2 separate regions of the Homo sapiens genome follow, and region 2 is linked to region 1. The links come from fine-mapping of genetic effects on gene expression. A gene starts in region 1. The other region holds a variant in brackets. All regions are shown on one strand. Distances are between the middles of the regions.

Region 1 (14,534 bases):
CCAAGTTAACAAACCAGATTCACTGAGGAGAAATGAATGAGATAAGAGGAGGGGGATGATTTTGAGAGATATTCTCTGAACTCCTGAGGCCACAGTTTTTAAATCTATAAAAGAGGATGTATATACTGCTTACACATGGAGTTATAAGAATAAGCTGAGGTTAAATATGGGCAAAAACGATCTGTAAGCTGGCTGTTTCTCCTACTTGACTTTTCTGCAGTTTATTCTTGCATTTCAACATGGTGGTTTTGGTTTGGGATGGGTTCAGATAGCCTCCAAGAAGCAAGCTAGACAAATCTCTATACCCTTAGGCTACGTGTCAGGAATTTGAGGTATCTGTCTCTTTCACAATGCCTTCTCTGGCTCTCTGGTCTACCCAACCTCTCCCTTGTTATAATGCCGTGGCCCTTCTGATTTATTTCATCATTTGAACTGTATGCCTTAAAATATGCCCAATGATACCCCTGAAAATATGTAATTCTCAACTTGAACTGAAAAAATTCACCCTGTTGAAAGGAATCTCTGGGTCTCCAGCCCCTAACGCGGGCATTGGTGTTAGAAAATAACAACAGTGCTTGTTTTTTAATTGCTCCTCTTTCAAAATCTCCTCCTGAAACCATGTGAAAAGCACAGATAACTTTACAGGCCACAGAAAAACTGACCTTGTCAGCCCTTAGGATTCTTGGATCCTGGAACATTAGTTCCATATTTTAATTATTCCTTTCCTTAGAGAGAATTCTTTAGGGCTGGACATTTGAAAGGTCTGTTCAAAAAGAATTAATGAGGTGGTCTTTGTTTAACAACATCAGGGCAATCACAATGGTGTCTCCACAAACTTTCTAAAAATTGTCGTAACATGGGGCATGTGGTCACTTCAGAAATAGACACCTATAGCTTAAAATAAAATGGCTAGGGTGGAGGTTGAGCACAAAGGTACCTGAGATAGACAAACAAAATGACAACAGGAAATAAGACCTTTTATTTTATAACAGGGCATAACAGGGACTAGCAGGGTCTTAGTTCCTGTTGCTAGGAGTTACATTAGGCTTCTAGCAAAGTAGCATATCTCCTGTCCAAAGTTTTCAAGCATTTTATCTTTTGTCCTGTCTTCACATTTGTTACTATTGCAACTGCTACTGGTCTAAACAGGGCCCTCTCTCACTGGGATGTGAAGTCCAGGGCTTGACATACTTCGTTCTCCTTGGGCAAGGTCTGGGGGGTGTTTGGTTGATTTTGCTCTCACCTGGATGTTCTCTGTTTGGGGCTTTGCATTCTCACATTCCAAGGCATCTCTTGAGTGTTCTGCTGCCGCCTGAAACTCAACATATCAGAAACAGGCTAAGTATTTCCTAAACAGGCCTGTCACTTCTTTTCATAATTTTTCCGACTTTCCTCATTTCTGCTATTTGTGTGTAACTCAGAAATTGACTGGTTGCCCTCACACATGTTAATACTGTTTCCTCAAGCACATGTCGCAAGCTACCTTTGATCTGACATGCTCTCCATTGCCACAGCAACAGCCCACTGATGTTCTCCAACCTCCATGAACAAGTGATCCTAAATCATCTGATCCCAAATATCCAGGGATCCTCGTCATGACCCTTGAGAGTATCCGTGTCCAGAGAGAGGCCTGAGGTCCTCAGCTACCATCTCTTTGGTGCAGTTCCAGGAGCTATGCACAAGTAATGGGGAAAGGTACTGGCTTTGTCTTGTGTAAATCACACCATCTTTCACAGAAAGCATGGAGGCCCAGAACAAGGGACAGAAGGAGAAGAAAAGGATTGAATAAAGAAAATAAATTGGTTCATTGTTTGGGTTAGATTTCTGTATACCCATCTTCCCACTTGTTGGGAATTGGGAGTATGAGGATAAAGAAACTAACACTTAAACACTACTTACTATATGCCAATCATTTTGTGTGTTATATTTCATTTAATCCCAGAATAAATCCATAAGATAGATATTATCATTATATTTTTTATACTAATGAGGAAACTGAGGCCCAAAATGCTAGGCAACTGGTCTGAGGATCCACAGCCACTAAGGGGGAAAAGCTGGGTTTGCTGCTGGCAGGTCTCTTCCTCTGAGACTGAGCTCCTCTCATGAAGGGATGAGTGCCATTCTATTCTGTGCAAAATTTCCCTGACTTCTTAGCTTATTTGATCTGGAGAGACACGGTTGGGGGGGTATGCTGACTAGATGATAACTGGGTGTTGGGGTGACAATGAAAATTAGATACCAATATATACAAGACTTTTGAATACGTTAACGGAAACATTTTATTTAATTATTTTAATGAATTTATTTTTAAGACTGGGTCTTGCTATGTTGTTCAGGCTGCCCTCAAACTCCTGGGCTCAAGCAATCCTCCTGCCTCAGCCTCCTGAGTAGCTGGGACTACAGGTGCATGCCACTGCACTTGGTTCAAGGGAGACCTTTTAAATCATCATAGAAATAAAGATGTTGGGCAAACTGATCAACTATTTGGAAAAAAATTTACATCTGACACCATATATTGAATATATGTTGCCAAATGTAAAATAACAAAATCAAAACTTATGTGAGTTGATTTGTCTTATCTTAGGAAGAGCAAAGAATTTTAAGCATGAATGCAATGGCAGAAACCAAAAAGCTTTCTAGATTTAAAATCGAATTTTCTTTAAAATAAATAAAAAACCATAAGAAGTCCAAATAGCATAAGATGTGTGCACCTTGGAAAAAGGTTTTTTTTCTTACATAAAACAAAATTTTAAAGTAAAAAAATTTTTTTAAAGTTTTTTTGCACTTATTCAGTGCACGTGATATGCCAGAAACAATGCCAGGAACCAGGAATTCAAAGATAAATAAGAAACAATCACTACATTTGAGCATCTCATATCTAGTAATAAAAATAGTAATTTATATAATTGTTAGAACAATGCTAGAGTAGAAGATTGACAAGGGGCTGTGACAACCCAGGGTAGAGAAGTCTCAGACAACATGATTCTTAGGAAGGGACATGAGATATTCCACAGGACCACCAATCCTCTTTTCGGCAAGTGGTCAAAAGTGGGCTACCATTTTTTCCTGTGTTCCACTCTCCAGTAGCATGAACTGAGACCAGGGATTCCAAACATAACCCTGTGAAGACCCCCTCTGGCTCGCTTACTCTCTCTAGATCACCCCACTTTATACCCTAGAGATTACCTTGTCTGTGGTGGCACTATTTTGGTGGCACGGCTTTGATATTAAGGAAGATGATGGTCAGAAAAAGAAAGCAGAAAATATCTTCTAATTTTGAACCCTACTTTATGTCAGGCACTATGCTAGCACAATACACACTAGAACTCTCTAAGGTAGATATTGTATTATTATTTCTACTTAAAATAAAGAGGCTGAGGTCCAGAAAGTAAATCTGAGTTCTGTGCCTATTTAATCTAGATGACCTCTGCTTACCTGCTTGCAGGGAGTGCACATCAAAGGAAGACTCAAGGTGGCAGGAAGCTTGCTGTTTATTTCAAACTTAAAATAGTGGCTGAAAGAGGGTGGTGATTTTGACCTCCTTGTGGAGCATGAGGAGCTCAGGAGAGCATCTCCTTCCCGGGCTTTCAGAAAGTTGTTTCATTTCTTAGGTGGTAACCTATTATATAGACCTTCCTTGGTAAAGTCTTTCCACCTTTCAGCTATTCTCCATCAGCTGCTCACCATGATTCTTGGGAGAAGGCAAAACCTATGGGAAATTTAATGTGGTATCTGGCACAGAGTAGGCACTGAAGGCTTGGCAGTTTCCTTACCCAACTACTTTCTACCCCAACTTAGTGTGCTAACTGTATACTAGCTTTCTTTTTCTCTTCCTTGCTGTATTGTCCTGTCCCATCTCCTCTGCTCTCCCACAGGGAGTCTAGACTTACCTGTTTTCTCTCAGCAGAGAATTTCCCATCCTCTCAGTCCTCTCAGGGCTTCCCCTCCGTCCCTTTACCACTTCCTTCTTGCCTTGTGCTCTGACAGGGCAACTCCTGACTTAAAGAAAGGGCTGTGTGGCTCTGGCCACCCGTGCAGAGACAGCAGAAAGGAGAAGGGTGTCTCTGCAGAGGGAAGGAAGAGGCTGGGGGAGGAGTGTTAGAGGCACGCATGTGCAGAATGTCCTAACATGTCAGTGCCTGAACCAACCTGGCTGTTGGCCATAACCAGCAACTACCCGTCAATGAGAGCTTCGAACCTCTGGGGAATCCCAGGTCTGAAATTACAGATGGGCCATGGGAGTTTTTCCACTACAGATATTTACGTTTATAAATCACGTTGTCTTCTTAGAAAAGTCAGAAGGAGGTTAAAACAGTCAAGCCACAGACCTGTAGAAAATATAGTATCAACAACTCTCAAATCTGAAAACAAACACCCAGTAACAAAATGGGCAAAATATTTGAACAGACATTTCACCAAAGGAACTATACAGATGAACATTAAAAGATGCTAAACATTGTAGTTATTAGGGAAGTGTAAATCAAATCCACAATGGAACACTTTTACATACTTATTACAATGGCTATAAAACCCTGACAATATCAAGTATGGCAAGGTATGCAAAGCAACTGGAAGTCTCATGCATTGCTGATGAGAATGCAAAATGACAGCCTTTTTGGAAAGAAGTGATAAGGACAGAAGGCAGGGCTTTACTGGGTAGAAGAGGGTGGTTCACTGGCAAAGGTCCCACCCTCAAGCCTTGAAACCGAAGCCCTAAATGAGAACAGTTATCCCTGTTATCCTGCCCAAATGTTACTCTTTAGCCTGTCCAGCCCCCCTATCCCGTGCCCATATAAACCCCAGACCTCAGCTGGCAGACAGACAAGCGGCTGAACATCAAGAGGAGAAGAAGCAACTGAGTGTCAGAGATGTGGCTTAACTTCAGGTGGCATGACTTCAGGGAGGAGCCCGGCCAGAGACAGCAGACTTCAGGGAAAGGTCACTTTCTTCCTGCACCATCCCCTTTGCAGCTCCCCTTCCACTGAGAGCCACTTCCACCATTTAATAAAATCGTCCACATCCATCAACTTTCAAACCATTCATGCAACCTGATTCTTCCTGGATGCTGAACAAGAACCTGGGTACCAACAGGGCAGGGTGTAAAAGGCTGCCACCCTGACTCTCCATTGAGTGGGTTAACACTTAGCTGTCCACGGATGGCAACTGCTAAAAGAGCATGAATTGTAACACATCCCTAAATGCTGCTGTTGGGCTGGAGCCCAAAAGTGCTCATCGAAGCCCTGGCACCCGCTTGCCTGCGTGCTCCCGCTCCCACAGAGAGTTTGAGCATGGTGGTGGCCAAGTAAGTAGGCCACACCCCTGTCGCAAGTCCCGAGAAGGGGTCAAGGGAACTCTCCCATCTCAGAAGTATGGCAATTTCTTATAAAATTGAACATAGGGTTACTGTACAACCTGGCAATTTCACTCCTAGGCATTTAGCCAAGTGAAACTTATGTCCTCTAAGACTGTGTGTACAAATTTTTATATGTGCTTTACTCATAATAGCCGAAATACCCTGGAAATAGCCCAACTGATCTTCATTGAGTGAATTGCTAAATAAGCTCTGTGTTATATTACATCCACACAACAGAATCCTGACCATCATTGAAAAGGAGTGGACTATTAATACATGCAATAACTTGGATCAATCTCAAATGCATTACACTAAGTGAAAGAGACCAGACTTAAAGCCTACCTTCTGTGACATTAGAGATAAGGTGAAACCACAGGAACAGAAAACATATTAGTGTTGCCAGGAGCAAAAGGTGGGGGAGGTGTTGACTTTCAAAGCACAGGAGGAAATTTTTTGTTGTTGTTCTTTATCTTGATTGTGTTAGTGCCCACATGACTGTATGCATTTCTCATAATTCACAGAACTGTATACTAATAAGGGTGCACTTCACTGCACATAAATGAATCTCAACAGACAAAAGGTTAAAAAAGAAAGAAATCTCGGGACAGGAATCATGGATTTTTGTATTATCCTTGTATTTGATGGTTGTTTCCAGTTTGGTCACTCATCTGTTTGTTCATTCCTTTAACAAGTATGTGTCGAGTGCCTACTATGTGCTGGGCACTGTAGGTTCAATGGTAAGAAAAGCAGATACAGGACTGCTCTTGTGAAGTTCCTTGAAAGAAATAAAACAAAGTGCAAAATATTTTATTGCTTGTCCTTGAGTAATGTAAAGGTCATATCTAAAACAGGCAGGAGAAGGATGGGGAGTGGGCTTAGAAGAAACAATTTCAGAGAAACTAGGGTACTAGCTGTGCAACCCCAGATTCATCTCACATCATTCTTATCCTTATGGCTGCTCTCCAAACTTCCTTTTGGCTCTGTGAGGGATTTCCAGGAGCACCTTATTAAAAATGGAAGATTTTATTATAAAAGATAAGCCATTATTGATCATTCACTTTTCTAAAAAAACACAAATGTGAGAATAAAATAAAAACACACAAGACTCACTAGCCCCTGCAAGACAGAAAGCAGCCCTGGACAGAGAGCCTCCTTATTATATACCTAATGCCTGAACTCACACATTCTAGGGTTTCATGTTTTGTTACCTCTTGCAAAGGATAGGAAACTGGCTAGAAAATTCATGTAAAGGAAGGTCACAACTTTAAAGCTATCTGACGCTAATGACTTGTATAATCTAGTTTGCAGCTCTGAGAGACAATATCAAATAAGCATTGTCAAATACTACTCCCACCTAACCTTTGCTGTCATTGTTCTTTGAAATTATCTTTGGGATTGGTTATGTTCTCTCACTGTAGCTTTCGTTTATCTCAGAGCACACACCCTAATGTCCATGTGCAGTCTCCATGCTCAAGTATTCCAGAATACAATTTTCTGGAGTCTAACTTCAGTTGACACCTGACTCCAAATTGCAAATCTACCTCCAACCAAAAAGAAATGAGAAATTAGTTTTTAAGGGCAATTAGCAAATATATTACAAAAATAATTTCAGATAAACGCTATGTGACAAATGGTGCTGTCAAGTCCTCTTATGTGAATACTAGTCATTGTTTGTCTTGAGAAAATGTGTGCAGTGGAGGATATCTTCTTGGCATATAAAAGGGGAAGATTTCTTTCTGTTTTAGTAATCTCTTTAGGGGATTGCCTGTGGTGTGCATTACATTCTGGTTGAATATTCAGAAATAAAAGTGTTTTCTTTCTCTTCTATTTTTGTGGTGAGGTTTTCTGAAATAGCAGGAGATTTTGCTTTTAATTCTATTTCCCCAATAGTAGCTCCATTAATTTTTTTCATGAATCCCTCATGTAATTGACTCTAGGAAAGATGTTAGGGTGGTAAATTTTCTTATTCTGTAAATATTTGAAATTCAGGAAAACCCTCCCATCAATAAATTAAATGAAGCATTGAAGTAAAAAAGAATATTCTTAACAAAGCTTATATTGAAAATCAGGTTTCCACAGCATATAGATCTAAGAAACCTGGGGGTACCCTTGTCTGTTTCTCCTATTCTCCTCTTTCAAAACCATTTCCTTTCCCAGGCTGGATAATTACAATAAAAAATAGAGTATGTGTTCCAAATTATTGAATGCTTCTTCCTTGTGTATGGAAAATCTGGGATGACAACCAGTGGTCTGCCATTTTGTGTACGAGAAAAAGAGGTATGTATGTGTGGGAGTCGGAAGGAATCTTGGTATACTATTATAACTAACCTCTCTCTTCCCTATTACCTTCAGAAAAAAAGAAAAACAATCAATCTAACCTAAAAGTGCCCCTTCCTCAGTGGCCTCAGCACATTTTGCACTACCTAGAGGCTAGCAGCAGGGGACCAGAATGTCTTAGCATTGTGAAAGAGAGACCACATGGACAGGGTGCTTAGCCAGTGAGTAGGGCTATTGTTGACTTCCCACCAGTATGAATGAACAGATCCTAGACCCTAGTTGGGGCAGCCTGAGCAGACACAGCCTGGATGCTGCTCCATGTGTGGCTTAATTAGTTCCACTATTGTCTAAAAGAGTCTTTGAGTCCAGAGAGCCATGGTAGGGTGAGTTGGAAATCAATCTGCCCATTGTAATTTAGGGGAAGGTTAGGAATTGCTTTCAAGCTTCTGTTTTACTCAGGCCGCTAGATGGAGAAGCTGAGCTGTGGAAGTGTTAGCTATCAATCACTTGTGTAAAGTAGCATGAAAGAGCAGGATATTTATAATAGATTTACTGCTGTAAAACTGACTCTGGACTATAAATAATATATCTCCTCTCCGTAAATGAGTAGAGCAACACACCCCCACACAAAGAAGCCCAGATAACAAATCTTTGAATCATAGATTCACTCTTTATTCTTCTCAGTGTTTAACTCCAGTGCCTAACACGTGTAAGAAACTACATTTCTAACACATGTAAGAAACCGTATGTGTTGAATTGGAAATAAAAGCCTGGATATTTGTAAGCAGATGATAGGGAAATCAGAGAACGTTTGGGTTGAGATCTTTAAATTTACTTTCCTATCCTTTGGCATTGCTGTAAAGAATTAATGACCAATGACTGTTTTGCTATATCCTTTGAAGATCATAGAAAAGTATAATTACAATAAGTATTTGTTGAGAGCTTTCTAATAATCCAGTAATTCTGTTAAATGCTTTAGATACAATTTCTAATTTCTTCATGTAAGAATTCTGTGGAATAAATACCATTTCCTCTTTGTTGTAGATGAGAACACCAGGCTCAAGTGACTTGCTCAAGGATATCCCAATAGGAAGTGACAGAGCTAAGATATAAGTTCAAACGGGGTGTGGATATATCTATTTGTTGTCCTATTTAATAAGTACTCATAGAAAGACGTCTTAGCTTGACTTTGAAACCTGGTCTACATCACTCCAATGTGTCAATAAGGAGCAGTATATTTGCATGTAGTGTGTCAAGGCTTCCCAGTTCTTACGCAGTTTTCACAATCTGGGCTGGCCTCAGCACAAGGCACGTTAGAGACCTTTAGGGTAAGAGTGAGTGATAAGAGTGATTCTAGATACTCCTGCAGTTTCAAAGGCCTAGATGGGATAATTCTAGCCCTAGCCCTAGCCCAAGCCCAGTCACTTTCTGGCAATGGTGAAATGAGGGAAGGGAATTAGGAGAACTAATTATACAGAAAGAAAATTATTTTGGGGCATTTTATTTTGGGAAAAGAAGTGGTTTATTTAAGATTTCTTACAGAACCAGGAGTCAAATAGCTTAGTTAAGACTTCCCTATTCTGCTTCCCTTTAAAAGAGGGCAAAGGCTGCATGGTGAGAGAGTACTGAGGAATCTTCCTGAATAGAACTTTCTACCTATATACTTTGTGATACAGAATATGAGCTGATTAGTGGTCCTAGCTAATGTCAGATAGTTGTGTGTTTGAAAACTGTAACTATTAATTGCTGCTATTCCATATAAAAAATATTTTGTTTTAAAGAGGAGATAACAGAGTTTCAGTAACTCTCTAGGTGAACGTTGGGGTTAGACTTTTGCTTTGTGGTGAAGAGATTTCAGCACATAGCTCCATTGGCTTTGCAGGAGCCATGGTAATCCAGAGATGATTGCCTAGAAACAGAATGGGAACTTTTTCAGTTCACTGGGAATGCTCTCCTAGCTGTAACCACCAGGAGGGTGGGACAGCACTTCTCTGAGAATAAATGACCCTTGGGAAGAATGTTTCTTCATTTGCAAAGTTTCCTGTTTTTCATTAGTAAAACTAATATAGAACATGGAAGATAAGTCAAATATCTGCAGAAAAAGTACAAACCAGGTTTAAGCATTATAAAAGTTAAAGAATAAAGCTAAATTACAAAAATATTCAAGGGTCAACAGACCAAGGAAAGCCTTTTATATAAAAATTTTAAAAGCAGACAATATTCTGGGCATTGTAAGCAAATAAACAGCTTTCCTCTGAAGAGCCAAATGAAAGTGAGCTCTAAGAACCTTCCTCAGCCAAAGTCTGTACATTACATTCTTTCAGGTAAAAACAGAGCCCTAGGCACACAACCCACCATGCCCTGAAGATGAGGCTGGTTATATACATCATGCATGGTACCAGGATTTTATATTCCAGTGTCTTGTGTAGTGGCCTTTTCCCACAGGGAGATGTTTACAATCCAGTACACAAACCTAGTCCATGACATTGACAATAACTAATATAATGGAGTGTATGCAATACTTCTTCAATGGCTTAAATTTCCATGATAAAATCTAAATAACTTAAAAAGCATTACACTGATTGTGCTTGGAGGATTTAAATCCATGTCATCATGCCTAGCTGTGTGACTTTGAGCAATTTATTTGTGTGCTCTAAGCCCCATTACTTCCTTGGCAAAATGGGACTAATGATGGTAAGTACCTCCCAAAATTCATATGATGACTGCATAAGCTAATGAGGGAAAAGCACTCAGAATAGCGTATCAGAAGACACATTAGGCTCTCTGTAAGTAACATTAGGCTCTCTGTAAGTAACAGCTACTGTTGGTGGAGAACACTTCTTCCCTCTCTAGGTCCTTGCTCTAGATCAAGGGCTGAAATCTCCATTGCCTTTATATTGCTGCCCATCTTCATTTTCTCATTTGTTCTACTGAAGTGCGGTGGTTTATTTGGTTGATGTATTTGGAAGTAGAGCCTGGACATTCTGTGTTAATCCCCTTCTTCTTGATACTTTTTGGAGTAAATTTACTCTTAGAAATCTTGCATTTTCTACTGTTCTCAGCTATGCATTAAGCTTAATGACAAATGCCTACAGCAGTCAATCTTTTCAGTTCTAGGGAAAAGAAGGCAACCACCTTATCTAATGTCAGCTCCATCAGTAATAATGGTGAGCTTGTGAATGTTTTAATCTCTATCTGCTTTAACCCTTTATCATAATTTTCAGTTGGTTCAGAACTCAGGAGAGGAGGGGTACTCATTAATGGGGTTCCTTAAACACTTAACAGCTGTCAGGTAATTATCACTGGGAAAAAACTGGTTAAGGTTAGTTTTGGAGAGAAGTGGTAGCAGTTTGATTTGACTTTGTCAACAGAAACAAACCAAGTTGTCTTTTCCACAAGGACACTTTTGTGACAGGAGTTGCCATACTTGGCTTCTAAAATGTGCCCACCACCAGTTATTTGGCATAGCATTCAGATTTCTAGACCCCCAGGTGGAAGTCTGACTCTGAAGACTTATCTTTAAATATATATTTTTTTTTTTTTGGAGATGGAGTCTTGCTCTTTCACCCGGGCCAGACTGCAGTGGTGCTATCTCAGCTCACTGCAAGCTAAATTTTTATTAATTCTTCAGATATCTATTTAGGGCTTACCATATTAGGGGGATATGTGTTATAACTTGTTTTCAAATCTCTGCTCTGCCTCTTCCTAGTTGTAAGATTTTCAGTTTACTCATTCATAAATTGGGAATAATTGTACTTACCTTATATGATTGTTACAAAATGAGTTCATCATAACTGTATGGCATGTGTTGTATGCCTAACATACAGAAAGCATGCACTAATTCTTCACTGTTAAGACTATTATCTAAAATTACATACTAGGCATTGTGCTTGTTGCTGTGAGTATAATGGTGAATAAAGTGATTACTGAAAGTTTCACTCAGGGCTAAGTTGCCTGATTCAGTCTGAATCAGTTTTCATTCCTCACTATTATAATTCTCTGAGAGCTACCGAGATGAGTGAAGTACAATGAGTGACAAAAATCAATACTTGGATCAAGAACAGCATTTAAACTATATTTTAATACATTTTATTTTTCATAAAGTGAACCAAACCATTATTGCTGTAAGAGCAATATGCAAAATATCTAGATGGCTATAAACTTATTTTCTGGCTTTAAGACTAAAATTTACTCTAAGATTTTCTAAAATGTTTTGTATATTTAAAATAACAAATATTTTAAATCAAGGAAATTTTGCAAAAAGTATATATGTTGAACTGCTGGTTTCAAGGTCCAAATTTCTTTTCTGCTTAGCACCAAGATCATCCACACAGGATCCAACCTGAAGTTACTCCTTCTTGATGTAGGGAAGTGTGTTTCTGCAGCAGGAGGCCTCTCATAGCCACAGCATTAATACATGCTTCGGTCTTCTTAACAGTCTTACTCTTTCCTAATAGAAGCGGAAAGAAAAAACAAAAACATAGAGGGCTTTTGAATCTTTCAATATTGACTTACAACCCAGAATAGGATGTACTAGAGGGTCAATTTGACTCCCATAAGACACACTTGGTCATTTTTGTTAAGGCCAAGGAAGGAAATTGAGCAAGTGAGTGTGAATCCCTTGTCACTCATAGAGTGGTGGCAGAATGATTTAACCTAGGAGTCAGAGTCTGAGAAGCCACTGAAGCGTGCTAAAATGAACAGGCATAGTTTATGGATTGTCAGGAGGAGGATTGTCCATTGTGAGAAGCATTGACTTAATCCATTACCACTCATTGAGCTTCAGTTCTGACTATAAAAACCCCCTTCATCAAACCAGTATTGCTGAACGTAAAGGGTGTTAAGAAGAAATAAATAACTTTCACATAATTTATATTTCAATAATGTTTAATAGTTTCATAATCATGCTTTTTATTATAAAATCAATAGAACTGCATAAAATAAGAGAAGTGATCAAAACCACTCCTATTCTCATCCTTCTAATTCCATAATTAAATAACTTGTATTGATCTTTTCTAGACCCTTTTCATGTTGAAAGATGTATATATATTGTATGTTGCATATTTTGCCTTCCTCTTCATATTTTACATTGATCTATACAACCAACCCTTTTAATGGTTGCACAATATTTCCTCATATGGATGTTCTGTAGACAATCTCGTTGTTAGACACTTGGGCTCTTTCGTCATTAGAAGTAGTAGTGCCTTGGACGTTTTGTACACATTTACTGTAAGAATAATTTACTTTGGATTAATCCCTAGAAGCATAATCACTAATTCAAAGTGTGTGAGCATTCTTATAACTTTGTTACAAGTTGTTTTTACTCTTCTACCAGCAAAATATGAGAAAACCAATATCCCTCAGTTTTCATCTATTTCCTCTTCTGTTTCAAAGGAAATAGATGTTACCAATGAATAAAAAAGTTGTCAATTAAAAAAGCAAATGTTAATAATTTTTTTTAAATTCTGCATTTCTTAGATTACTATTTTCTCCATTGTTAGGTATTGTCTTTTACTTGAATTGCTTATTCATAAGTTTGCCTGTTGAAATTACAGTGTTTTCCTAATCATGTTGTACACATTAGTCCAAAGTAAAGATATTGATCTTATTGTAAGCAATTAATTCTTTTTTTGGACCATTCTTGAACTGCTTTTATTATTATAGGATTATATAAGAAACTGCTGACTTGGGTGTCCTCCTGCCAAGAAGATTATCAATCTCCAGCACCTCCTTGTATTTCCTTCTGCTTTCTATGACAGTATTACTTTTTTGAGGTAAAAGAGATCAATGCATTAAACATTACCTAAATCATTCTGACTTAAATTCAATATACAAAAAAGAGAATATCTTCTGATAATATATGAAAGTATTCTTTGGGCAATAATAAAAAAAAATCCTTTTCTTTCCAATTTTTATTTTAGATTCCAGGGATACATGTGCAAGTTTGTTACCTGGGTATATTGCGTGATGCTGGGCTTAGGATTCAAATGATTCCATCACCCAGGTACTGAGCATAGTACCCAGTAGTTAGTTTTTCAACCCTTGACCCCTCCCTCCCTGCCCTCTGTAGAAATCCCCAGGGTCTAATGTTGCCATCTTTATATCCATGAGTACCCAATGTTTAGTTCCCACTTACAGGTGAGAACATGCAATATTTGGTTTTCTTTTCTTGTGTTAATTTGCTTAGGATAATGGGTTTCAGCTGCATCCATATTGCTGCAAAGGACAGGATTTGGGTCTTTTTTATGGCTGTATAGTATTTCATGGCATATATGTACCACATTTTCTTTATTCAACCCACCACTGATGAGCACCTAGGTTGATTCCATGTCTTTGCTATTTATTGTAAGTGGTGCTACGATGAACATGCAAGTGCATGTGTCTTTTTGGTAGAATAATTTGTGTATATATATATATATATCTCCAGTAATGCCATTGCTGCATCAAATGGTAGTTCTGTTTTAAGTTCTTTGAGAAATCTCCAAACTACTGTTCATAGTGGCTGAACTAGTTTACATTCCCACCAACAGTGTATACATGTTTCCTTTTCTCTGCAGCTTCATCATATCTGTTGTTTTTGTCTTTTTAGTAAGAGTCATTCTGAATGGTGTGAGGTAGTATCTCATTGTGGTTTTGATTTGCATTTCTCTAATGATTAGTCATGATGAGCACTTTTTCATGTTTGCTGGCTGCTTGTACGTCTTCATTTGAGAAGTGTCTGTCTATGTCTTTCATGCATTTTTAATGGGGTTGTTTTTTGCTTGTTCAATTGTTTAAGTTCTTTATGGATTCTGGAAATTAGGCCTTTGTTGGATGCACAGTTTGGGAATATTTTCTCCCATACTGTAGGTTGTCTGTTTATTCTATTGATAGTTTCTTCTGCTGTGCAGAAGCTCTTTAGTTT
Region 2 (15,935 bases), 61 kb before region 1:
GCTGGGTCAAATGGTATTTGTAGTTCTAGATCCTTGAGGAATTGCCACACTGTCTTCCACAATGGTTGAAGTAGTTTACACTCCCACCAACAGTGTAAAAGCATTCCTATTTCTCCACATTCTCTCCAGCACCTGTTGTTTCCTGACTTTTTAGTGATCGCCATTCTAACTGATGTGAGATAGTATCTCATTGTGGTTTTGATTTTCATTTCTCTGATGACCAGTGATGATGAGCATTTTTTCTTGTGTCTGTTGGCTGCATAAATGTCTTCTTTTGAGAAGTGTCTGTTCATATCCTTTGCCCACTTTTTGATGGGGTTGCTTGTTTTTCTCTTGTAAATTTGTTTGAGTTCTTTGTAGATTCTGGAGATTAGCCCTTTGTGAAATGGGTAGATTGCAAACATTTTCTCCCATTCTGTAGGTTGCCTGTTCACTCTGATGGTAGTTTCTTTTGCCATGCAGAAGCTCTTTAGTTTAATTGGATCCCATTTGTCTATTTTGGCTTTTGTTGACATTGCTTTTGGTGTTTTAGTCATGAAGTCCTTGCCCATGCCTATGTCCTGAATGGTAATGCCTAGGTTTTCTTCTAGGGACTTTATGGTTTTAGGTCTAACATTTAAATCTTTAATCCATCTGGAATTAATTTTTGTATAAGGTGTAAGGAAGGGATCCACTTTCAGCTTTCTGCATAGCCAGTTTTTCCAGCACCATTTATTAAATAGGGAATCCTTTCTCCATTTCTTGTTTTTGTCAGGTTTGTCAAAGATCAGATGGTTGTACATGTGTGGTGTTATTTCTGAGGTCTCTGTTCTGTTCCATTGCTCTATATATCTGTTTTGGTACCAGCACCATGCTGTTTTGGTTACTGTAGCCTTGTAGTATAATTTGAAATCAGGTAGCGTGATGCCCCCAACTTTGTTCTTTTGGCTTAGGATTGTCTTGGCAATGCAGGCTCTTTTTTGGTTCCATATGAACTTAAAGTAGTGTTTTCCAGTTCTGCGAAGAAAGTCATTGGTAGCTTGATGGAGATGGCATTGAATCTATAAATTAGCTTCGGCAGTATGGCCATTTTCATGATATGGATTCTTCCTATCCATGAGCATGGAATGTTCTTCCATTTGTTTGTGTCCACTTTCATTTTGTTGAGCAGTGGTTTGTAGTTCTCCTTGAAGAAGTCCTTCACATCCCTTGTAAGCTGGATTCCTAGGTATTTTATTCTCTTTGTAGCAATTGTGAATGGGAGTTCTCCCATGATTTGGCTCTCTGTTTGCCTGTTATTGGTGTGTAAGAACGCTTGTGATTTTTGTACATTGATTTTATATCCTGAGACTGCTGAAATTGCTTATCAGCTTAAGGAGATTTTGGGCTGAGATGATGGGGTTTTCTAAATATACAATCATGTCATCTGCAAATAGGGGCAATTTGACTTCCTCTTTTCCTAATCGAATACCCTTTACTTCTTTCTTCTGCCTGATTGCCCTGGCCAGAACTTCCAACACTATGTTGAATAGGAGTGGTGAGAGGGCACATCTTTGTCTTGGGCCAGTTTTCAAAGGGAATGCTTCCAATTTTTGCCCATTCAGTATGATATTGGCTGTGGGTTTGTCATAAATAGCTCTTATTATTTTGAAATACATTCCATCAATACCTAGTTCATTGATAGTTTTTAGCATGAAGGGCTGTTGAATTTTGTCAAAGGCCTTTTCTGCATCTGTTGAGATAATCACGTGGTTTTTGTCATTGGTTCTGTTTACATGATGGATTATGTTTAGTGATTTGTGTATGTTGAACCAGCCTTGTGTCCCAAAGATGAAGCCCACTTGATCATGGTGGATAAGCTTTTTGATGTGCTGCTGGATTTGGTTTGCCAGTGTGTTTTATTGAGGATTTTTGCATCAATGTTCATCTGGGGTATTGGTCTAAAATTCTCTTTTTTTGTTGTGTCTCTGCCAGGCTTTGGTATCAGGATGATGCTGGCCTCATAAAATAAGTTAGGGAGGATTCCCTCTTTTTCTATTGATTGGAATAGTTTCAGAAGGAATGTTACCAGCTCCTCTTTGTGCCTCTGATAGAATTTGGCTGTGAATCTGTCTGGTCCTGGAATTTTTTTGGTTGGTAGGCTATTAAGTATTGCCTCAATTTCAGAGCCTGTTATTGGTCTATTCAGAGATTCAACTTCTTCCTGGTTTAGTCTTGGGAGGGTATATGTGTCCAGGAATTTATCCATTTCTTCTAGATTTTCTAGTTTATTTGCATAGAGGTGTTTATAGTATTCTCTGATGCAGTTTGTATTTCTGTGGGATTGGTGGTGATATCCCCTTTATCATTTTTTATTGAGTCTATTTGATTCTTCTCTCTTTTCTTCTTTATTAATCTTGCTAGCGGTCTATCAATTTTGTTGATCATTTCAAAAAACCAGCTCTCAGATTCATTGATTTTTTTTTGAAGGGTTTTTTGTGTCTCTATCTCTTTCAGTTCTGCTCTGATCTTAGTTATTTCTTGCCTTCTGCTAGCTTTTGAATTTGTTTGCTCTTGCTTCCCTAGTTCTTTTAATTGTGATGTTATGGTGTTGATTTTAGATCTTTCCTGCTTTCTCTTGTGGGTGTTTAGTGCAACAAATTTCCCTCTACACACCGCTTTAAATGTGTCCCAGAGATTCTGGTACATTGCATCTTTGTTCTCATTAGTTTCAAAGAACATCTTTATTTCTGCCTTCATTTCGTTATTTACCCACTAGTCATTCAGGAGCAGGTTATGCAGTTTCCATGAAGTTGTGCAGTTTTGAATGAGTTTTTTAATCCTGAGATTTAATTTGATTGCACTGTGGTCTATGAGAGACAGTTTGTTGTGATTTCTGTTCTTTTACATTTGTTGAGGAGTGCTTTACTTCCAATTATGTGGTCAATTTTAGATAAGTGTGATGTGGTGCTGATAAGAATGTATATTCTGTTGATTTGGGGTAGAGAGTTCTGTAGATGTCTATTAGGTCCACTTGGTGCAGAGCTGAGTTCAAGTCCTGGATATCTTTGTTAACCTTCTGTCTTGTTGATCTGTCTAATATTGACAGTGGGTGTTAAAGTCTCCCATTATTATTGTGTGGGAGTCTAAGTCTCTTTGTAGGTCTCTAAAGACTTGCTTTATGAATCTGGGTGCTCCTGTATTGGGTGCATATATATTTAGGATAGTTAGCTCTTCTTGTTTAATTGATCCCTTTACCATTATGTAATGGCCCTCTTTGTCTCTTTTGATCTTTGTTGGTTTAATGTCTGTTTTATTAGAAACTAGGATTGCAACCTCTGCTTTTTTTTGCTTTTCATTTGCTTGGTAGATCTTCCTCCAACCCTTTATTTTGAGCCTATGTCTGTCTCTGTACATGAGATGGGTCTCCTGAATACAGCACACTGATGGGTCTTGACTCTTTTATTATTATTATTATTATACTTTAAGTTCTAGGGTGCGTGTGCACAACGTGCAGGTTTGTTACATATGTATACATGTGCCATGTTGGTGTGCTGCACCTGTTAACTTGTCATTCTTTATCCAGTTTGCCAGTCTGTGTCTTTTAACTGGGGCATTTAGCCCATTTACATTTAAGGTTAATATTGTTATGTGTGAATTTTATCCTGTCATTATGATGTTAGCTGGTCATTTTGCCCGTTAGTTGATGCAATTTCTTCATAGCATCGATGACCTTTACAATTTGACATGTTTTTGCAGTGGCTGGTACCAGTTGTCCCTTTCCATGTTTAGTGCTTCCTTCAGGAGCTCTTGTAAGGCAGGCCTAGTGGTGACAAAATCTCTCAGCATTTGCTTGTCTGTAAAGGATTTTATTTCTCCTTCACTTATGAAGCTTAGTTTGGCTGGATATGAAATTCTGGGTTGAAAATTCTTTTCTTTAAGAATGTTGAATATTGGCCCCCATTCTTTTCTGGCTTGTAGGGTTTCTGCCGAGAGATCCGCTGTTAGTTTGATGGGCTTCCCTTTGTGGGTAACCTGACCTTTGTCTTTGGCTGCCCTTAACATTTTTTCCTTCATTTCAACCTTGGCAAATCTGACAATTATGTGTCTTGGGGTTGCTCTTTTCAAGGAGTATCTTTGTGGTGTTCTCTGTATTTCCTGAATTTGAATGTTGGCCTGCCATGTAAGGTTGGGGAAGTTCTCATGGATAATATCCTGCAGAGTGTTTTCCAACTTGGTTCCATTCTCCCCATCACTTTCAGGTACACCAATCAAATGTAGATTTGGTCCTTTCACATAGTCGCATATTTCTTGGAGACCTTGTTCATTTCTTTTTACTCTTTCTTCTCTAAACTTCTTTTCTCACTTCATTTCATTAATTTGATCTTCAGTCACTGATACCCTTTCTTCCACTTGATGGAATCAGCTACTGAAGCTTGTGCATGTGTCACGTAGTTCTCGTGCCATAGTTTTCAGCTCCATCAGGTCATTTAAGGTCTTTTCTACACTGTTTATTCTAGTTAGCCATTTGTCTAATCTTTTTTCAAGGTTTTTAGCTTCCTTGTGATGGGTTTGAACATCTCCTTTAGCTCAGCGAAGTTTGTTATTACCTACCTTCTGAAGCCTACTTCTGTCAACTTGTCAAAGTAATTCTCCTCCAGCTTTGTTCCGTTGCTGGTGAGGAGCTGCATTCCTTTGAAGGAGAAGAGGCGCTCTGGTTTTTAGAATTTTCAGCTTTTCTGCTCTGGTTTCTCCCCATCTTTGTGGTTTTATCTACCTTCGGTCTTTGATGTTGGTGACTTACAGATGGGGTTTTGGTGTAGATGTCCCTTTTGTTGATGTTGATGCTGTTCCTTTCTGTTTGTTAGTTTTGCTTCTAACAGTCAGGTCCCTCAGCTGCAGGTCTGTTGGAGTTTGCTAGAGGTCTACTCCAGATGCTGTTTTCCTGGGTATCACCAGTGGAGGCTGCAGAACAGCAAATATTGCAGAGCAGCAAATATTGCTGCCTGATCCTTCCTCTGGAAGCTTCGTCCCAGAGGGGCACCCGCCTATATGAGGTGTCTCTTGGCCCCTACTGGGAGGTGTCTCCCAGTTAGGCTACACAGGGGTCAGGGACCCACTTGAGGAGGCAGTCTGTCTGTTCTTAGAGCTCAAATGCCATGCCAGGAGAAGCACTGCTCTCTTTAGAGCTGTCAGAGTGGAACGTTTAAGTCTTCAGAAGTTGTCTGCTGCCTTTGGTTCAGCTATGCCCTGCCCACAGAGGTGGAGTCTATAGGGGCAGTAGGCCTTGCTGAGCTGCAGTGGGCTCCACCCAGTTTGAGCTTCCTGGCTGCTTTGTTTACCTACTCAAGCCTCAGCAATGGCGGACGCCCCTCCCTCAGCCAGGCTGCCGCCTGGCAGTTGGATCTCAGACTGCTGCGCTAGCAGTGAACAAGGCTCTGTGGACGTGGGACCTGCCAAGCCAGGCATATGTGCCACATTTGCTTAATCCAGTCTATCATTTATGGACATTTGGGTTGGTTCCAAATCTTTGCTATTGTGAATAGTGCTGCAATAGACATACGTGTGCATGTGTCTTTATAGTAGCAAGATTTATAATCCTTTGGGTATATACCCAGTAATGGGATTGCTGGGTCAAATGGTATTTCTAGTTCTAGATCCCTGAGGAATCACCATACCATCTTGCACAATGGTTGAACTAATTTACACTCCCGCCAACAGTGTAAAAGTGTCCCTATTTCTCCATGTCCTCTCCAGCATCTGTTGTTTCCTGACTTTTTTTTTTTTTTTTTTTTGAGACAGAATCTTGCTCTGTTGCCCAGGCTGGAGTGCAGTGGCACAGTCTGGGCTCACTGCAACTTCCACCTCCCGGGTTCAAGCAATTCCCCTGCCTCAGCCTCCCGAGTAGCTGGGATTACTGGTGCACACCACCATGCCCAGCTATTTTTTTTGTATTTTTAGTAGAGATGGGGTTTCACCATGTTGGCCACACTGATCTCGAACTCCTGACCTCAGGCAATCCACCCGCCTCAGCCTCCCAAAGTGCTGGGATTACAGGCAGGAGCCACCTGTAATTACGCGCCTGGCCTTTTCTAGACTTTTTAATGATCACCATTCTAACTGCGGTGAGACGGTATCTCATTGTGGTTTTGATTTGCATTTCTCTGATGACCAGTGATGATGAGCATTTTTTCATGTGTCTGTTGGCTGCATAAATGTCTTCTTTTGAGAAGTGTCTGTTCATATCCTTTGCCCACTTTTTGATGGGGTTGTCTGTTTTTTTCTTGTAAATTTGTTTGAGTTCTTTGTAGATTCTGGAGATTAGCCCTTTGTCAGATGTGTAGATTGCAAAAATTTTCTCCCATTCTGTAGGTTGCCTGTTCACTCTGATGGTAGTTTCTTTTGTAATACTGGCAGTTTCTTATTGCTTACTTGCTTTTAATGATGCTCAGGATTGTAGGATACAGAGGACCTGATGTAGAGGAACTTGCCAAATACTGGAATGGAACACGTTCCACTCTCACCCTTGAAGAAACAAACCTCCAAGGTTGTGAACAAATGTGTTGTAATTCACAAGTCTGTCCATTTTGCCTCCTACTGATATAAAATAACTGAGCATGGCTGTGATTTTTGCTCAAAAGTTTTCTTGGAGAATAAGAGAAGGTAATAGCAAAGAGGCTGCAGCCTAAAGCCACTGATATGTCGCACTTCTTCATGTCTCACCTGCTATGGGAGAAAGAAGAGGTGGTTGGATTGATTCTCAACAAATATGCCTGCCAGCGTTCAAATGGCTTTTCTTAGGTGAAGAAATGGATCACTGTGAGGTTGCTTCTCTTCTCTCTGCCATTTATCCCAGAGCAGCAAATACCAATCCTGTGATTAAACCATTTTTTATGGGGTTTGGAGTTATTCATTCAAATCTCATTCACTCAAGTTTGTTTCTGGCTAAGGAAAGCTGTTTCTTCTTTTGTCCATTGTTAGGTATTCCATGCAACAACAGAACTTTTAAGTGTGGCAATGATATTTGCTTTAGGAAACAAAATGCAAAATGTGATGGGACAGTGGATTGTCCAGATGGAAGTGATGAAGAAGGCTGCAGTAAGTAGAAATTCATTCCTTTGGGTTCCTGTATTCCCTCTTCAGTTTACCTGTTTGTTATATTTTCATTCCCTTCTTGGTGTATTTCCCTTGATCGAGGTTGCCATAGCCAAAACAAGAATAGTAACTATTGACAAACTGAGTCTGAAATTGTTTCTCAGAAATAAAAACTCTGGAATGGATTCTGTCTTCTTGATAACAGCATTAATGAATTAAATTTTTAAAATGAGAACTTTCACTTTTTAATAATTTTAATCAAGGGAGAAGATCTTAAATAAAAACCTTGTGAGAAAATAAATAGAAACTGGAACGCAGTGGATGACCTGTTAATGCCTTATGTTACTAACAATATCAAGTGCTGTTTCTTTAGGCCTGACTCAATAACTAATCTCCCACATGCTCCTATTAGTCATGTGGCTACTACTTGGCCATGTGGCAACATGTAAATTATACATCTTTACCAATACTATTTACACTAGCAAACAATTGCTCTGATAACTAGTTTTCCCTGTAGGTTTTCATTTGTCCAGGTCTTATAAATCTTTTCCCCAATCCTTTCTGTCACATCAGCACAACTTCAAAGAAATTCTCAATTCATTTACATTCCTCTTTACCTGACAATCTAAATCCATAGGCAGCTGTTTGTGTCAGTTCAGCTGTTACAGCAGGTCCCCCTCCTCCTCTCATCTGCGTTGTG[G/A]TATAGAGACTGTGTCAGGGCATGCTTCAGGAAGGAGGGAGTGGTTTGTTTGTATTGGTTTCAGACAGACTCACATGTTCTCTGTCCTCTAGATAAGGAGATTTCAAATTGCTACCTAGTGAGTCAGTTCCCAGCCAGCACTAAAACTGGCTTAACTTCTAGTTTTTCTTCCAAGTCTACCTTTAAATCACATGCCCTTTCTCCACCAAAGCCTGCAGCAGGAGTTCCTCCGCCCTTCACCGCATCATCGGAGGCACAGACACCCTGGAGGGGGGTTGGCCGTGGCAGGTCAGCCTCCACTTTGTTGGATCTGCCTACTGTGGTGCCTCAGTCATCTCCAGGGAGTGGCTTCTTTCTGCAGCCCACTGTTTTCATGGAAACAGGTAGGGCCTCACGGTCCTTACTTTCAAGTGGCACTCTGTGGCCATAGACAATATATCTGCCCTCAAATTGTGGGAAGCAGATCCCTGTTGGGGACATTCAATCAATTCAATTGCACTTTCATTTTTTGGATCCCACGTGTGTGACAAACATTTTTTTTTAAGGTATTATTGGTATAAAAAAAGCACAAAGGAAACATCAAGAATGAATAGGCTTTTACTAAGGCTGGGAAAATAAGATAGGGCTTTTAACTCAGAGGGAGCAAACTTAAGAGAATGTGTGGAGAATGTGGAGAAAAATGGGCACTGGAGAGTGACTGGAGAATGGAGGTCCCCAATGGGATTATGATGGGATAGATGCTCTTCCAGCCAAGGGTAAGAGGACATCTTAGAAAATAACCTCACTTAAAATTTAAACTTACTATTGGAATCTACTGAATCTTAGGTTAAAAAAATCATTCACTTCTCATTCTGCATTTTTTTTTTAGTATTTCAATGAAGTTACACAGTTTGGATATTTGTTTCCCTGAAAATTATAGGATTTGTGTTAATTATTAAGATAGCTTCACATCTGTTTGATCATGAGTCTCTAATGCTGTGAAACTGCTCCAAATAATGTATTAACCCTAATATTTCTTTGGGTGTCCATTGACACTCATGAGACATCAGCTAAGCAAATTAGTGACCAAAATTTTGGGGCTTCCTCATTTTTTTCACTCCCACTCTTTACCCCACTGCTATGCTGATGGAGATGGACGCTTCACATGGAGATTACAAGTTCTTCTGTGACTTGTGCAAGGTCATGGAGGTCAAGATTGGGATTCTGGAAGGACTGATGGGAATGGCAGTTGGTGACCCTATGAATGGGCATTGTTGAGCAGTAAGAGTAGTGATCATTAAGGCTTCCAGTAGTTTGCCAGAAGGAATTTCATTAAATTCCTGCTTATAGCACTTTGATTTCTAATCTATCTTGGTATTCATATCATTTGAATTTGGTAGTAGGATTCTCCATCAAATGCCATTGTCAGCATGAATAGGAAGAATGTAACAAATTAATTCTAGTTACCAACATTCTTGACCTGTGTGTGGTTCATGAAATACTAGTGGAAAGAAAATGTCCAGGCATTTGCTTAGGACACTGTTGAGTGAATTTTCTATTACTTGCCACTCCTAATACAGCTTACGTCATTTCTGACTTTTTGAGGGAGACAAGGGAGGCTCACAGTTACGCTTTCTGCCATGGTCCCCGGACAAAGCCAGTGACTATAATAACACCCTGGAAGTCAGGCCCTTCTTTTTCAGCCCTCAACTCTTTAGAGTGCTTGTTTGCAAACTGTATGTGGTTCTTTAAGCTGCTAACTTTATGTTTCATTACTGTTCTATCAGGCTGTCAGATCCCACACCATGGACTGCACACCTCGGGATGTATGTTCAGGGGAATGCCAAGTTTGTCTCCCCGGTGAGAAGAATTGTGGTCCACGAGTACTATAACAGTCAGACTTTTGATTATGATATTGCTTTGCTACAGCTCAGTATTGCCTGGCCTGAGACCCTGAAACAGCTCATTCAGCCAATATGCATTCCTCCCACTGGTCAGAGAGTTCGCAGTGGGGAGAAGTGCTGGGTAACTGGCTGGGGGCGAAGACACGAAGCAGGTGTGTGTATGAATGAATGGTCATGCCCTTCCCCTGCAGAGGATGATAAGGTGTTTATGTAGTGCTTTAGGGTTCACAGAGAGGGTTTGTGTATATGATCTCCTTTGAACCTCCTGACAACTCTGGAAGGTTGGATTGGAGGAGGGTACTGTTATTTCTTTTTAATGATGCTATCCACCTGCTTTAAAAGAAGCAGGGCTCACCTTATAAAGAGGGAGAGGACTGTGTATGAGCAAGGCAGGATTGACTAGATAGTCATGGGCCCTTTTCAAACTCTGAAGGTTATGCTATGTTATTCACTAGAGAAGGAGCAATTCCTCCCTTTTCATTCAAAGAAATGATTCATTTATAAAGGAGAGAAGGACACACATGCACATCCCACTATGTCAACTCATAGGCAACAGTCTGGGAGACTATGTGGGTATGACCTGTGCCTGTGCAATTGGCCAAGGGATGAGAGTAAGGGCTGAACTTCAGACTGCCCTTAGTTTCCAGACCAGAAACTCAGGCCTGGAGGTTATACCTCCAGGATTTGGATTTGGTCCACCCAGAGGAGATACCTTTTTGCTATTTCTCTGACGGGAGAGGACATCTTTTCAATATGCATAAAGATCAGGCTGTATAGTAGGGAAGTCCCTACATCTACCCTGCCAAGGTTTTTCATGGTCCAGGATTCAAGGTGGGATTCTGAATATATAGTGAGGGGAAGAATCCAATGCTTTGTGAATGTATCCCCAAACGCTAGTGCTAATATTTTCCCTTGATCTTTCAATCACCTCACCTTCTTTTGCCATCCTTTTCAAGGGTTTAGGACACGTACAGCATCTGTAATTCCTGAACCTTGCCCTGTAGCCTCGTTTTGACACTCTAAAGTGTGGGCAACTTCTCAAAGGCAGCTTCTCAGTGCTTTCATTTAGTGATTGAAGTAGTAATACCACCAGCTTGGGTCCACTGAAGTCTCAGGGTCCCAAGGAGGGAAGGCAGCTGACTGTGAACACTTGTAACTTTGATAGGTTACTGTGCTCAGTGCTTTGATTACATTATCATATATCACAGGAGAAAAGCATCTGCCCAACCAACTTATCATGAGATGTTTTCTTTATAAGCCTGGGTATGTGTGTGTACACTTATTTTTCTGAATCATCTTAGCCAGGTAGGTTCAAAAGGAAGTGAAACAGCTATTTGCAAACTGTTAGGTTTTTATGGTTCATCAGAGACTCCCATATATCAGTTATGCTGCTCCATTTAAAGAGCTCTCTTGAATAGTAGATATTAGTAATAACTGTTGCTGACTTACCATCCTACGGAAAACAGGAGGGAAATGGTGAGGAATATGGCACAGTTGTTCAAGTAATTGAGTCAGACCTTGGGTCTGAATCTTGTGTTACTTGCTAGTGGTGTGTCACTGGGCAAGCCCTTTAATCTCCTAGCACTCGATTTCTTCATCAGCAAAATGAGGATAATAGTAGAATTTACCTCAAGGGAATTGCCGCTATGAGGGTAAAAGGAGATAATGTGTGTTAACTTTTCAAATGAAGTCCTGAATACATGCGGCCATTACCACTAACATCATTTCTACTTCCAATGTGTTTTGCAGATAATAAAGGCTCCCTCGTTCTGCAGCAAGCGGAGGTAGAGCTCATTGATCAAACGCTCTGTGTTTCCACCTACGGGATCATCACTTCTCGGATGCTCTGTGCAGGCATAATGTCAGGCAAGAGAGATGCCTGCAAAGTAAGTCATTGTACCTTTCCCTTGCCTAACATGTTGTGCTTTCCATAAATGCTTTCTCACTTAATCTACATAACACTGGGAAATAACCAGGGCAGGTATTTCCCTGAATTCACTTGAGCTGCTCAGATATTATTTATCATCCAATTGCCTAAGATCTTGGAGAGGTGTTGAAATAATTTATTCTATAGAACGCAGTTTTCTATAATGTGCTCCATGTATTTTCCTTCAATATTTAGAGGATGAGGTCAGCATTCATCATTCTGCCATAATTTTCTTATAACCAATTTATTTCCTATTTCCTTAGCAGCTGCCATTTAATTTCTAAAATTTGAAGGATTTTATTTACTCATTCCTTTGAAGTATATGCTGGTGGAAAGAGGAGAGGAATGGAGAGGTGACAAAGAATACTCATTTGTAGTTCTCTGGGTAGGCCCCTGGCAGTGGTAAAGTTGGAAGTCACCTTTGGGGTGACATTTCTCGGAGCCTGAGATTCCAATCTATGCAGTTACCTACATGATTGCCAAAGAGTAAATAGATGATTTAGAGCAAACTTGTCCAACCCACGGCCCACAGGCCACATGCAGCCCAGGACAGCTTTGAATGCAGCCCAACACAAATTCACAAACTTTCTGAAAACATCATGAGATTTTTTTTTGCAATTTTTTTTAGCTCATTAGTTATCATTAGTGTTCGTACATTTTATGTGTGGCCTGAGACAATTCTTCTTCCAGTGTGGCTCAGGGAAGCCAAAAGATTGCATACTCCTGATTTAGAGGGTGAGTAGGACAGTGGGAGCTGTTCTTTCATCTTTCCACAAGCTTAGCCATGATGCCACAAAAACTCATCCTATAATAATGACTTCTGTCTTCTGAGCTCCTATTTTGTGGCAAGCACCGTGCTAGGTTCTTTACATAAATTCATTCCAATCATTCTTTTTTCCTCATTTTATAGAAGAGGAAACTGGGCACAGAGAGGGTAAGTAAATTGCCTAAGGTCATACAGCTAGTAAGTGTAAATGTCTGAGCTGGGATTTGAACCCTTGCCTCTCTAATGCTAAGGGTACTCTATTTTGGGTGCTTCCCATAGCTAGTCGGTTACACAGCCCTGTTCCACACAGCCACAAGTGTTTACTTGTTAAACTTAGTAGAGTTGATGTGGTGGCAATTAAAATAAAGAGCCCAGCTTCCCTACTAGTTGGAATTTTCCTAATCAGGTATAAGATCATAATTTGGATACATGGGCAAATTTGTTGCCTCTGAGTAAGTTGCAAGATTATCTACCCTCTAAAATAGGAAAATAAAACCTAGATATTATAATTTAAAGGACTAATACTGTGGAAATTATGTTTATACTTTGAATTGTTTAAGCCTTTGCTTAGAGGAATTGAGATATCAGAAAGGACTCTCAAGTGAGAGTGATTTGTTTGTGATGACTGTGGACCAGCAGTTGTTAGGGTTTTTTCACTGGACCTGGCTAACTAAACAGGTCTCTTCTTCTCCATGGGGCTATGAGCTAACCACTAAAGTTGCATGGCCCAGAGATAGAAGTCAACCTTCCAAGATAACCATGCCTCATAAGGTTGTTGTGAGGATTAAATGTCTCTAAACGATTCTTAGCACATAGCTAGCACTAAATAAATTTTAGCCCTCACTACTACTACTACTACTACCACCACTACTACTACTACTACTATTACCACCACCACCACCACCATCACCACTAGTATTACTGAGGTTTATTCTTTGTTTAGGGCTATGTGAGAGTTGTTTTCTCCAGTAAGAATCTTCCAGTGTTATTCTTAGCCTAAAGAATCATGTTTCGTCTAATGAATGCAGCTGTTTGATTATAGGAAGAATAATTATAAAATGATAGAAGTTTCACATTAGTTTTTCACACTTCCCAAATTACAGAGTGATTAGCCAAGCAAAAACATGTCATTAGAGGACTCTTGAACACAATTCATTAGATACAATAAAGATGAAACTGATGATCATGGGACCAATTTACTTTATACTTACATTTTTTGTGTGTGTAGGGAGATTCGGGTGGACCTTTATCTTGTCGAAGAAAAAGTGATGGAAAATGGATTTTGACTGGCATTGTTAGCTGGGGACATGGAAGTGGACGACCAAACTTTCCTGGTGTTTACACAAGGGTGTCAAACTTTGTTCCCTGGATTCATAAATATGTCCCTTCTCTTTTGTAATTGTACCAGTTGTATTTTTACTGTGATTTATGTTAAAAATAGATACTTTAAAATGATGCAGTAATTGGCTGGGTGCGCTGGCTCACACCTGTAATCCCAGCACGTTGGGAGGCCGAGGCGGGCAGATCACGAGGTCAGGAGGTCAAGACCATCCTGGCTAACATGGTGAAACCCTGTCTCTACTGAAAAAAAAAAAAAAAAAAAATTAGCCGGGCGTGGTGGCAGGTGCCTGTAGTCCCAGCTACTCGGGAGGCTGAGGCAGGAGAATGGCATGAACCCGGGAGGCGGAGCTTGCAGTGAGGCGAGATCAGCCACTGCACTCCAGCCTGGGTGACAGAGTGAGACTCCATCTCAATAAATAAATAAATAAATAAATAAATAAATAAATAAATAAAATGATGCAATAATTACTAATAAAATGAGTCCCTTACATTTTTTTAACTAGAAATGTCAAATTGCATACATTTAATAATAAAATTAGTCCCTTACTTTTTTTCAACTGGAAGTGTCAAATTACATACATTTAATACTTATTGAAAGACAGGTTAATATGTGTTCCATAAAAAGTTTTCCCAAGGAAATAACTATATTCATTCTTAAGTACAAAAGGCTATTGATTCAGAGATGGAAGAAACCTAAAGTAATGTTATGAACCAAGCCTCTAAAATAAAATAAAAAAATAAGGGAGATGTTCAGGCATCCCTATTTTATGTCCCTATTCATGTTCAGATACTTATAAAAATTACAGCAAATTTGACTTATTAAAATAAGAAATTCCAGTAAAAAACATACCTGACCTTCAGCATTTTCAAGAAACTAAATGCACAAAATATCTCCTTTGCAAATGCAAATGAAGCAAAACTCAGTTATCGACAGAATAAGTACCTATATTGTTGCTTTACAAACCAATTTTATCTAAACATATCATAGTGGACCATCTTCAGCCATGGCACATGGTAATGTTGTGTACAGAGAAACCAATCAACCAACCAACAAAACTGACAGCAACCATTACTAAATGGCAGAATAAAGCATCATGGTAATTGAATCGAAAGCATGTATATGAGATTCAAAGAAATTGTTGTAATGCTGGTCAGCAAAAAAAAGGCAAAGAAATTTTTGAATGATTGTTGCAAAAGTGAAATTTTTCAGAAATATTATCATCTGGCTTTTGGTTCTTTTTAAAACCCCAGTGGATGAGACTTTCTTTTACTTTCAGACTCTTATAATACCTTACATAGTTGTAAGCCTATAGCACACTCTCAATGTATCTTAGTTCTTGATTTATTTTATCTTGATTTAGAAGGTTTCATACTTGATCTCAGAATATTCTTTTCATTAACAGAAGCCAGAATTGATAGTACCACCAAATGAGTGAAAACAACAGAAAAAAGAGTGATATTATTTGTTTTCCTGTTATAAAGTCAAAGAAGTAATAAAAATACTAACATCAGGTAGTGTCTATTAATAGAATAATGCACAGAACCTTAGAAAATCTTAATGTAACAGCAAAAGGAGAGAGAGCAAAAGGTGTCATCTCCCAGGCCAGATAAATTTTTCAGTTCATAGAATATACTTTGATTTGTTAAAAGACTGTTCCCTCAGATTAAGGATAAAGCATCTTAATAATACCTCTATGAATGGGCCCCAAAGGTTTCAGTAAACTGGCTATACGATAGTGCAATTCAGAGGGCCAAGTGTACCACTAATTCAAAAGGGAGGACTTTGCTACTGAATCCACTGGATAGAAGAGCGAATTAGGCTGATAGTTCTTATAATCTACATTATTTTGTCTGGATGGCTGTGACCTATATACAAGGTGAGTTGTACTTTTTACTTTATGGTCATTTCTAGGGCATAGAATTGCTCTTCACAAAATACATGAAAACCTTTGCATAAGTCTGTGATCTCGGTTAGGGGATGGAGGAGGGCTGGCATGATCCATCAGATTCATCAGAGGGAGTTTTTGAAAGCACATGTATGTACTACCTCTATAGGCCCTCACTGGTATTAAAGTGAGTACACGATATGCTGTAGCAGTGCTGGGGCAGGGAAAAGGTTGAAAAACAAACATAACTTGCTTGGATATTGCATGTTAAGATGCATTTAGAACCTGAATGATGTGGGAATATCCACTTCATTCTTGCAAAGGTGTGAAGTAAGGCAAGTCCCAAGAATGGTTTTGTTAGCAGAGCAAAATGGCCTTC

What was found. PIP is the estimated chance that this variant, and not a neighbour inherited with it, causes the effect.
Region 2: its variant is the best candidate, but not a certain one, in a credible set for the expression of GCSAM in whole blood (INTERVAL, PIP 0.80).

What each region holds. Positions count from the first base shown.
Region 1 is chr3:112,129,202-112,143,735 of GRCh38, forward strand. It overlaps GCSAM (germinal center associated signaling and motility), which reads right to left and starts at 4,047. Exons shown (of 6, transcript NM_152785.5): 1 at 3,891-4,047; 2 at 1,244-1,312. The coding sequence starts at 3,919. TBILA (TGF-beta induced lncRNA) reads left to right here and starts at 4,222. Exons shown (of 1, transcript NR_157393.1): 1 at 4,222-6,158. SLC9C1 (solute carrier family 9 member C1) reads right to left here. Exons shown (of 29, transcript NM_183061.3): 29 at 11,697-12,080. The coding sequence ends at 12,071. It also overlaps a transcript of C3orf52 not described here. RefSeq lists enhancers at 3,653-3,712, 4,193-4,372, 7,367-7,886, 7,887-8,405.
Region 2 is chr3:112,067,357-112,083,291 of GRCh38, forward strand. It overlaps TMPRSS7 (transmembrane serine protease 7), which reads left to right. Exons shown (of 18, transcript NM_001395507.1): 14 at 6,940-7,056; 15 at 7,965-8,136; 16 at 9,520-9,788; 17 at 11,386-11,522; 18 at 13,558-13,913. The coding sequence ends at 13,728. Among named protein-coding and RNA genes, the nearest start is that of C3orf52, 11 kb to the right of the region's middle. The variant G/A (reference allele first, on the strand shown) is at 7,754.